Linked DNA regions of Homo sapiens: region 2 is linked to region 1. The links come from fine-mapping of genetic effects on gene expression. Tissue or cell type: whole blood. Region 1 holds a variant in brackets; the other region holds the start of a gene. All regions are shown on one strand. Distances are from middle to middle.

What was found. PIP is the estimated chance that this variant, and not a neighbour inherited with it, causes the effect.
Region 2: DMPK starts here. The variant in region 1 is fine-mapped to the expression of DMPK in whole blood (TOPMed, PIP 0.97).

Annotation. Positions count from the first base shown.
Region 1 is chr19:45,747,565-45,752,752 of GRCh38, forward strand. It overlaps MEIOSIN (meiosis initiator), which reads left to right. Exons shown (of 15, transcript NM_001310124.2): 5 at 3,111-3,222. Among named protein-coding and RNA genes, the nearest start is that of MEIOSIN, 17 kb to the left of the region's middle. RefSeq lists an enhancer at 13-805. The variant T/G (reference allele first, on the strand shown) is at 2,944.
Region 2 is chr19:45,780,327-45,785,454 of GRCh38, forward strand. It overlaps DMPK (DM1 protein kinase), which reads right to left and starts at 2,164. Exons shown (of 15, transcript NM_004409.5): 1 at 1,867-2,164. The coding sequence starts at 2,026. DMWD (DM1 locus, WD repeat containing) reads right to left here. Exons shown (of 5, transcript NM_004943.2): 4 at 4,315-4,389; 5 at 2,621-3,964. The coding sequence ends at 3,917.

The sequences.
Region 1 (5,188 bases):
AGAGCAGACAGCAGACAGCAGTAACAACCGTTCCCAACTTACTGAGCGTTCCAGGTGTCAGACCTTGAGTGCTAAGTGTCTTAGATACATTTTTCTCATTTAACTCTCCCACAAGGCTTGTGAGAGATGTATGGCTATGCTCATTCTTTGGTCTGAGGAAACTGAAGTGCAGAGAATGGTCACATCGCCCACAGGCACAGAGTTGAGATAGAAAGAGAGACAGAGAGAAAGAGAGAGGGAGGGATTCAGATGTGGCCAGGCACAGTGGCTCACACCTGTAATACCAGCACTTTGGGAGGCTGAAGCAGGCAGATTGCTTGAGATTAGGAGTTCGAGACCAGCCTGGGCAATGTGACGAAAGTCCATCTCTACAAAAAATACAAAAATTAGCCAGCCATGGTCCCCGCTACCCAGGAGGCTGAAGCAGGAGGATAGCTTGAGCCTGGGAAGTGGAGGTTGCAATGAGTCGAGATCATACCACTGCACTCCAGCCTGAGCAACAGAGTAAGACCCTGTCTTTTTTTTTTTTTTGAGACGGAGTCCCGCTCTGTACCCCAGGCTGGAGTGCAGTGGCACCATCTCGGCTCACTGCAAGCTCTGCCTCCTGGGTTCACGCCATTCTCCTGCCTCAGCCTCCTGAGTGGCTGGGACTACAGGTGCCCGCCACCACGCCCGGCCAATTAGTTTTTGTATTTTTAGTAAAGACAGGGTTTCACCGTGTTAGCCAGGATGACCTCGATCTCCTGACTTCGTGATCCACCCGCCTCGGGCTCTGAAAGTGCTGGGATTACAGGCGTGAGCCACCGCGCCTGGCCATGAGACCCCATCTTAAAAGAAATAGAGTCAGATGTATCTCACTCCAAAGGCTCTTGCCTTCAACCATTCTGTCACTCAAGGTTCAATAGATGTTTGTTGAATGACTGAATGAGCTCCCTTTGTTGGGACAGTTACAGGACCTGTTGATCTTACCTTCAGAAGGTCTTTGAGAGTCCAGACTCTGGTGTAGCCCCCAAGCTAACCTTCCTGAAGTTTCAATTACTGAGGCATCTGTCTTGAAATCTGGGATGATGCCCAATTGCTTTCTACATACAACCTTTATACTAGTAATAATAAGTAACATTTATATATTACTTCATGGTTTATAAGGACTTTTTCTTAGCGAGTGCCAACCATATGCTCCAAGCCTGGTATTAGAGATAATAAGCTTAAAAAGACTGAGGCTGGCTGGGTGCAGTGGCTCACACATGTAATCCCAGCACTTTGGGAGGCCGAGGTGGGTGGATCACTTGAGGTCGGTAGTTCGAGACCAACCTGGCCAACATGGTGAAACCTTGTCTCTACTAAAAATACAAAAATTAGCCAAGCGTGGTGGCACATTCCTGTAGCCCCTGCTACTCAGGAGGTTGAGGTGGGAGAATCGCTTGAACCTGGGAGTCAGAGGCTGCAGTGAGCTGAGATCGTACCACTGCACTTCAGACTGGGCAACAGACCGAGACTCCCTCTCAAAAAAAAAAAAAAGACTGAGGCCAGGTGTGGTGGCTCATGCCTGTAATCCCAGCACTTTGGGAGGCCAAGGCGGGTGGATCACTTGAGCCCAGGAGTTTGAGACCAGCCTGAACAACATGGCGAAACCTCATCTCGATAAAAAATACAAAAAATTAGCTGGGCATGGTGGCATGCGCCTGTAGTCCCAGCTACTTGTGGGGCTGAGACAGGAGGATTGCTCGAGCCTAGGAGGTGGAGGTTGAAGTGAGCTGAGATGGTACCACTAAACTCCAGCCTGGCCAACAGAGCAAGAGACCCTGTCTCAAAAAAAAAAAAAAAAAAAAGGCCGAGCGCAGTGGCTCACGCCTGTAATCCCAGCATTTTGGGAGGCTGAGGTGGGCGGATCATGAAGTCAGGAGATTGAGACCATTCTGGCTAACATGGTGAAACCCCGTCTCTACTAAAAAATACAAAAAAATTAGCGAGGCGTGGTGGAGGGCGCCTGTAGTCCCAGCTACTCGCTGAGGCAGGAGAATGGCATGAACCCGGGAGGCGGAGCTTGCAGTGAGCCAAGATTGCGCCACTGCACTCCATCCTGGGCGACAGAACAAGATTCTGTCTCAAAAAAAAAAAAAAAAAAAAGCGCAAAAAAAAAAAACAAAAAAAGACTATTGGCCGGGCGTGGTGGCTCACACCTGGAATCCCAGAACTTTGGGAGACCAAGGCGGGCAGATCACAAGGTCAGGAGTTCGTGACCAGCCTAGCCAGCATGGTGAAACCCCGTCTCTACTAAAAATACAAAACATTAGCTGGGCCTGGTGGCACGCACCTCTAGTCCCAGCTACTCAGGAGGCTGAGGCAGGAGAATTGCTTGAACCTGGCAGGCAGAAGTTGCAGTGAGCTGAGATCGTGCCATTGCACTCCAGCCTGGGCAACATAGCAAGACTCTGTCTCAAAAAAAAAAAAAAAGAAAAAGAAAAAGAAAGAAAGACAGGGTTGAGCACAACAGCCAGGGCTCAAGACAACGTGGGGCTGCTGGGGACCAGAGACACAGAGGCTCCAGGAAGGACCCCATTCCCCACCCACCCCAACAATTCTTCAGTCGGCAGAGACCTTCTTGTTCTGCTATCTAGCCCTCACTGCAGACCAGTGAGACAGGGGCTACAGCTACAGGCTGGAGTGCAGTGGCATGATCTCAGCTCACTGCAACCTTTGCTTCAGGCTGTGTCTCTGGTCCCCAGCAGCCCCACATTGTCTTGAGCCCTGGCTGTTGTGCTCAACCCTGTCTTTCTTTCTTTCTTTTTCTTTTTCTTTTTTTTTTTTTTTTTGAGACAGAGTCTCGCTATGTTGCCCAGGCTGGAGTGCAACGGCGTGATCTTGGCTCACTGCAACCTCCGCCTCACGGGTTCAAGCAATTCTCCTGCCTCAGCCTCTCAAGTAGCTGGCATTACAGGCATG[T/G]GCCACCACACCCAGCTAATTTTTTGTATTTTTAGTAGAGACGGGGTTTCACCATGCTGGCCAGGCTGGTCTCGAACTCCTGACCTCATGATCCGCCCACCTCGGCTTCTCAAAGTGCTGTGATTACAGGCGTGAGCCTGGCCAACCCTGTCTTTCTTTTGAGGCAGAAGGAGATTCTGGTGCATGTCCTGCAGTACATTCAGTACCTCCAGAGAAACATCGATGCCGCCAAGGCCTTGTTCAAATGCCACATCACCACTGGGGAAGGTGGACTTGCGGGTAAGTAGTTCAGCCAGTGTTTCCTGGTGCCTGTGATGTTCCAAGTGTTGTTCCAGCCATCAGGGATACTGAGTGACCCTTCTGTCAAGGCCTGGTATAGGGGACAAAGAGAGATATGCAAGATGCCTCAGAGAAGAGGGGCCTTGGAGCTGGGCCTTCAGGACTGTAGGAGATGCAGGGAAGCCCAGCCAGGCAGAAGAAACAGGCCGGGCACAGTGGCTGATGCCTGTACTCCCGGCACTTTGGGAGGCCGAGGCGGGCGGATCGCTTGAGGTCAGGAGTTCGAGACCAGCCTGGCCAACATGGCAAAACCCCGTCTCTACTAAAAATACAAAAATTAGCTGGTGTGGTGGCTGGCGCCTGTAATCCCAGCTACTTGGGAGGTTGAGGCAGGAGAATCACTTGAACCTGGGAGGCGGAGGTTGCTGTGAGCCGAGATCACGCCACTGCACCCTAGCCTGGGCAACAGAGCAAGACTGTGTCTCAAATAATAATAATAATAATAATAATAATAATAATAATAATATATACATAAAATAAAATAAATCTGATCATGACCTTCCCCTGGCATAAAATCCCTCAGTAATTTTCATCTTCTTCACTTCCCTCCATAGCCAGGTGCTGGAAACCATTTGGGATCTCATCCCTGCCTTCCTAGTCCCTGCCAAACCTCCCCAGCCTCATCTCCTACCATTCTGCCAGCGTATTTTATTTATTTATTTGTGCTTTTTGTTTTGTTTTGTTTTTTGTTTTTTGTGTGTTTTTTGAGACGGAGTATCACTCTGTCACCCAGGCTGGAGTGCAGTGGCGTGATCTCTGCTCACTGCGACCTCTGCCTCCCGGGCCTCTGCCAGTATATTTTACACTACAGTAACAGCGACAGCACCCAGCACATCTAGCCTTAGGGGACTGCTATGTTCCAGGTGCTGTGGTATGTTTCTTTCTTTCTTTTTTTTTTTTTGAGGCAGAGTTTAGCTCTTGTTGCGCAGGCTGGAGTGCAGTGGCGTGATCTTGGCTCACCGCAACCTCTGCCTTCCAAGTTCAAGTGATTCTCCTGCCTCAGCCTCCCGAGTAGGTAGGATTACAGGCACTCACCACCACACCCAGCTAATTTTTTTGTATTTTTAGTAGAGACGGTGTTTCACCATATTGGCCAGGCTGGTCTCAAACTCCTGACCTCAGGTGATCCACCCACCTTGGCCTCCCAAAGTGCTGGGATTACAGCTGTGAGCCCCTGCTCCTAGCCGTTTTTTTTTTTTTTTTTTTTTGAGACAAGGTCTCACTCTGTCACCCAGGCTGGAATGCAGTGGCATGATCATGGCTCACTGTAACCTCAAAATCCCAGGACTCAAAACTCCAGGGGTCAAGCAATCCTCCTGCCGCAGACTTCTAAGCAGCTTGTACTACAGGCACGTGCCACCAATATCCAGATAATTTTCTTTTTTTTGAGATGGAGTTTCTCTCTGTCGCCCAGACTAGAGTGCAGTGGCGTGATCTCAGCTCACTGCAAGCTCTGCCTCCCAGGTTCAAGCCATTCTCCTGCCTCAGCCTCCCAAGTAGCTGGGACTACAGGCGCCCGCCACCACACCCAGCTAATTTTTATATTTTTAGTAGAGACAGGATTTTGCCGTGGTCGCCAAGCTGGTATCACCTCAAGTGATCCACCCATCTCAGCCTCCTAAAGTGCTGGGATGACAGATGTGAGCCATCGTGCCTGGCTCTGGCTAATATTTTTGTTTGTTTTTTTGTAGAGACAGAGTCTCACTGTGTTGCCCAAGCTGGTCTTAAACCCCTGGGCTTAAGCAATTCTCCCGCCTTGGCCTCCCAAAGTGCTGGGATTATAGGAGTGGGCCACCAAGCCTGACTTGTTTCTATGTATTAACTCACATTTAATCGTCAGGACAAATACCGAAGGGAAAAGCTAATGTGGTCCTGTTTTGCAGGTGATGGAACTGAAGCCCAGAGA
Region 2 (5,128 bases), 33 kb after region 1:
AGATTCAGATGCAGGTGGTTCTTGAACCACACTTTGGAAAACCCTGGATTTGGGGCTGGGGGAAGGAACAGGACAGGGAGACAAAGGTAGCATGGTCACATATCCCAGACTCAAGTGCTCCGGTCCAGCCCATCTCTCAGTCCTCCAGGAGGAGTGCTTTAGTCCTACCCCTTATTTACAGATGACAATCAGGCCTCTCAGAAGTCAAGGTCCTATGACTAGGAATGTTAAACTGGGCAGCCTGGGTGGGGGACCAGCTGGGGTGGAGGCTTGTGGCTCAGGGACTGTGGGGACAGGGAGGCCTGGACTCCCGGGGGTGGAAGAAGTGGAGGCAGGATGGAGAGAGGGATGGGTATGGGAGGGGAGGGAAGGAGAGGAGACAGTGGGTTCTGGAGGAAAGAGAGGGGTTCCGGGGGGTTCCGGGAGAGTGGGCCAGCAGGGACGAACCAGCCAGGGCTGAGGACGGGGGAGGGAGGAGAGAGCCAAGACATTGAGCCCTTTTAAGGCAGCAGGAACCCTGGCCCCCTCCCCCGCCCCAGGCCTGGCAGGGGAGGGGCCGCGAGATGCAGCTCGGGCCACAAAAGGAGTGCTCCTCCCGGGAGCGCCAGACCCCTACCCCACCCGGTCTCAGTTTACCCTGCCAACCCAACTTCATCCTCTACTAAAGGGAGGCCAGGAGAGTCATTAGGGGCTGTGGGAGGTTGGGAGAAGGTTTTTCCAGAGGCTGAATGGCCTGGCCCTTCTTGGCCTCCACCTTCCCATCTGTGAAATGGGAGGAGGAGGGAAAGGAACCAGGCCTGGGTCAGAAAGAGATGGACACAAGAGGAAGCAGGGGAAGGCGGAGAAACAGGAAACAAGTGTCACACACAGTTTGTTACACACAGGCCAAAAACCAAACACCAGTCACTGAGGGCCAGACATATGAGGGCCAGAGGGGCAGGGTGCTGGGAATGAAAGAAACCAGTGACCAGTGAGCCCGAGTCCTGGGCTTGGGGAGGAGGTGGGCAGACAAGGCAGCTGGCAGAAGCGGAAGCATCCTCCTTCCAGCCCTGGCCCCAGGCCCTGGAAAGCCCTTGCAAGAAGGGGTTTTGTGGGACAGCTGGAAGGTTGGAGGCCCTGGGCCAGGAGAACTAAAGGACGCAGGGACCCGGGGTGGCGGGAATGGTGGCTGACCCACACGGCTCATAGGAACCGAGACTTTGGGGCTGGGGGTGGGGGTGGGTGCAGAACCTACAAAAGAAGGAGACACACCCAGAAGAACCCAAAGTTGTCCCTCCTGGATCGCAGAGGAGGGGGCACTGGTGGCGCCTGTCTGCAAAGCTGGTTCTCCCACAGGGCCCGCGTGAGTCACCGCCCTCCCAGTGCCTGGGCACCTGTTGGGGCAGCTGGAGAGGCTGGCGCCGAACACCTGCCTGTCGGCTGCGCCCCTGGCAGCTGCCCCATGCTGGCCCTCCTGGCTTGCCCCAGGCCACAGGAAACCAGGGGAGAGGGCCATAGAGCCCACTTTTGGGGGGAGGGTCCTAGGAGAGGGAGCTCCCAGCATGACCCTGACCCTGACCCTGAGGCGGGGTGCAGAGAGGCCATGGGAGGCTGTTGGCAGCCTAGCCTGCTGTGACTCCTAAGCCATGGCTCTGAGTCACAGCCACCCTAGCCTCTGCTGACCTTACTCTGCCCCTCCAGAGTGGTGGCATAGGACAGAGAAATGTTGCCCCAGGGCCCAGGTCCACACTCTGAGCCCCAGGATGGGAGGATCTCCCCATGCCCATCCTGCCATCCTGCCCCCCCAACAGCCAGGCCTCTGTGCCCAGACCTGTCTCCTGCCCCACCCCCACCCCATCTGCAGGAGCCCCGAGGGTAGGCACTCACCCCACTGCAAGAAGTCGGCCACGTACTTGTCCTGGGCCAGTTCGGAGGCGCCCAGCTCCTGGTGGACGCCCAGGAGAAGGTCGAGCAGGGGCTCCAGCCCCAGGAAGCCCGGGTCCAACACCAGCTGCTGGAGCCGCCTCAGCCGCACCTCGGCTGACATGTTGGACAGGCAGCACCATGGCCCCTCCCCGGGCCGGGGGCTCGGGGTCCTCCTGTCACAGGGCCTGGCAGCCCCTGTCCAGGCCCTGGAGCCCTGGCTGCATGTCTGCCTGTCCCTGGCTGTCCCCTGGGCCTCTCTGGCCACTTCTCTCTGCGGCCGGCCGAGGCCTCCTCCCCTTCTCCCCACCCCTTGGTCCAGCCCCCCTCCCGCCTCCCAGCCTTAACCCCTCACAAGCCAGCCCCCCAAGCTCCCTCCTTCCAGGGCCCTTCAGAACCCTTCAGTGCTAGAGTAGGGGGAATGCATGGAGAATCTCAGCTGTCACACTGTCACCCCAATAAAAAGGTAGAGCACAGAGGAAGCCACAGGTGTGATGAATTTCAAGAAGAACCTGCCCATTGCTGAAACAGGGCCAATTGAGGCTGAGTGACCCAGTAGCAACCACCCCCTTGCTCCCGACAAGCTCCAGAACTGGGGGCTAGGGGGTGAGGGCTGGGGGTTGGGGCTGGGTGGGAGAAAGGGGTTGAGGCCTGGGAAGGGGACGGGAGGCCAGGGCAGCTTCTTGGGTGACTCAGAGATGGATTCCGACTCGGACAGTTAAATTTAGCCCTCAGGCTCTCTGCTTTATACCAGCTTTTTTTTTTTTTTTTTTTTTTTTTCCCAGGAGGTGGGGAAGGGGTGGTGAGGACAGGACCAGGAGGGGGCACCCTCAGAGCCTGAACAGGGGTGACCTGCTGCCCAAAGGCTGGGGGAGGAAAGTGGTGGAGCCAAGCCCTCCCTGGGCAAACGAGACCCCAAAATAGCTCCTTGGCCCCTGGCCGGGGAGCCACATTCCTGCCCAGGCTGGGATTAGAAACAGAAACATTTCGGGGGGTGGAGGGTGGCGCGGGAAGACACACTCCCTGCGGCTCCGAGAGCCAAGAGGAATCTGAGCTCTTCTTTCCAGGGTGGACGGTTCTCCAGAGTGGAAGTCGGGGCCTCCAACCGGCCTGGGGTGCCTGGGCCTTGAGAGGGCCAGGCCTGAGAAACTAGGAGGCAAGGACCGAGGAGTCCCAGCTGGGCAGGGCCTGGGAAACGTGGTCCTGGGCAGTTCTGATAATTTAAAAAACACCGAGGACTTTGATGAGGGGCCCTGGCTGCGGGCAGGATGCTCTTCTCCCCAAGAGGGTCCTGCTCCAGCCGCTGGTGTGGGTCACCAGTTGTGTGACTCGCAGGTCCGTTCCCTCCCTGGGCTCCGGCTTTTCCTGCTATGAAAAGGGGTGGGAGGCGCTGGGCTGGGAGCAGGCCTGCACTCCTCCTCTGGGGAAAGCGGACTGCCTAGAACCACAGAGTACACACACAGGTCCTCTACATCATCTCCTCCGAAGGGGACAGACCCGCTGAGAAAACAGGGAACTTTAGTATAAATAAGAGGTCCTGCGGGACAGGGAGGAACCTGAGGGGCTTCCATAATTTAACACTCTTCAAAAGCACAGACAATAGCAAGGGCAGCTGGGGTGGGGGCCGGGCGAGGGCTGGACCACCCCCGGCCCTGCCCACTCAACTGAGGGGCACACTGCAGACCTGGGGCTCTTGTGGCAGGGGCGGGGAGTCTCTCCCCAGGAGTGACCAGTCACATGCTGGGGACAGGGATGAGGGTAACACTGATGTTTCAGAGGAAGAGGTCATTGTACTTGGCAGTGGGTGGGGGACAAGGCTGAGGCCACAAGGGCTATTACATCGCCCGTGTCCGGGCCAGTCTGGGGGGCCCCCAAATTTTGTGCAGGTGGGGGGACTGGAGCAGTCCATCCATCATGGTTAGTCTTGTTAATACGTTGATCTGTGAGGTCAGCAGGGAGGGTTATGGCTAGGAGGCTGGGGGCATGGGGTTGGGGGGGCCCGATATCCATGGCTTCACACCACTGTGCCACTCGGGGAGTTGCCTGGTTGGGAGGAGATGCCCTGGGGAAGATGAGAGGGAGAGATGGGAGGGGTTAGAGACCACCTGGGCTTCAGCCAGTGTCAAGGGGAGGGAGCCAGCCCAGAGTCCCCAAAGCTGCTGCCACCCTGGCCTTGCCCTTGGGTCCGCCCTAGACCCCCCAGAGGCCACTGCTCTAGGCTGGGAACTTGCATCTTAGCTAGCTTCCTGTCCTGGCAGTCAGCACTTTCACGCAATAATCAAAGTCCTTGGCGGATCCTGAGTGAGACCATGGGGTAAGGGTAAGGGTGGGAGGGGAGGGGGAAACTGGAGCTCCCTTCTAACTTGGGAGGGACCCTGAGGTGCTGGGGAAAGAACTCAGGGACAGTCCTACCTCTACCACTGACTTGCTGGGTGACCTGGGCCAACTTCCTTCCCCTGTCTGGGCCTCGGTCTCCTCGTCTGTGAACTACGGAGACAGAGGGGTCTCTTTTAGGACTCAACCAGACTCCCCAAATCCCACCACTCTTGCCTCTGAGTCACTCAGACTGTGCTCTCAAGTTCTAGGGACTCAGGACTCTACGATTCCAAAACTGAGGATCTGAGGAACCAAGCCACGGCCTCCAGGACCCTGGGCAACTGAGTCCAAGCCCTAAGAAGCTGAGACACCCAAGACGAGCTCCGAACTTACAAGATGCCAGGCCTGATTCGCCTACTATGACCTTCCCAACGCCACAGCCCACCCAGGAGGCAAGCACATCCACCCACTGCCCATCCTACAGGCTCTGTTCTAAGAGGTGATGAGTTGGAGGTCAGAGGGGGCAGTGACTTGTCCAGGGTCACAGAGGGAGTGGGACTGGAACCCAGGCCTGGGATTCCCAGCCTGTGCCTTCAGCAGGAGGCTCAGATCCTGAGTCCCAGACCCAGGCTGGCAGCCATGCCCACAGGCTTGAGCTCGCCCCTAGTTTTGGCCTGAAGTACTCAAAAAAGTTTCACGATTTAAAAAACAGATGTTCAACAGAAATAGATTCTGGTTCGAGTGACAGGCAGTAAGACCTGGCCATGTGGGGCCCATCTGCTGCCCTTCAGACGGCCAGCCTTGGATGCCCCAATTCCTAGCTGGCTCTCACACCCACCCCTCTTTCTGCTGCCTGCTGCCTAGGGCTAGACCCCCTCACTCTAAGGATCTGAGAGGTCTTGTACTGAGA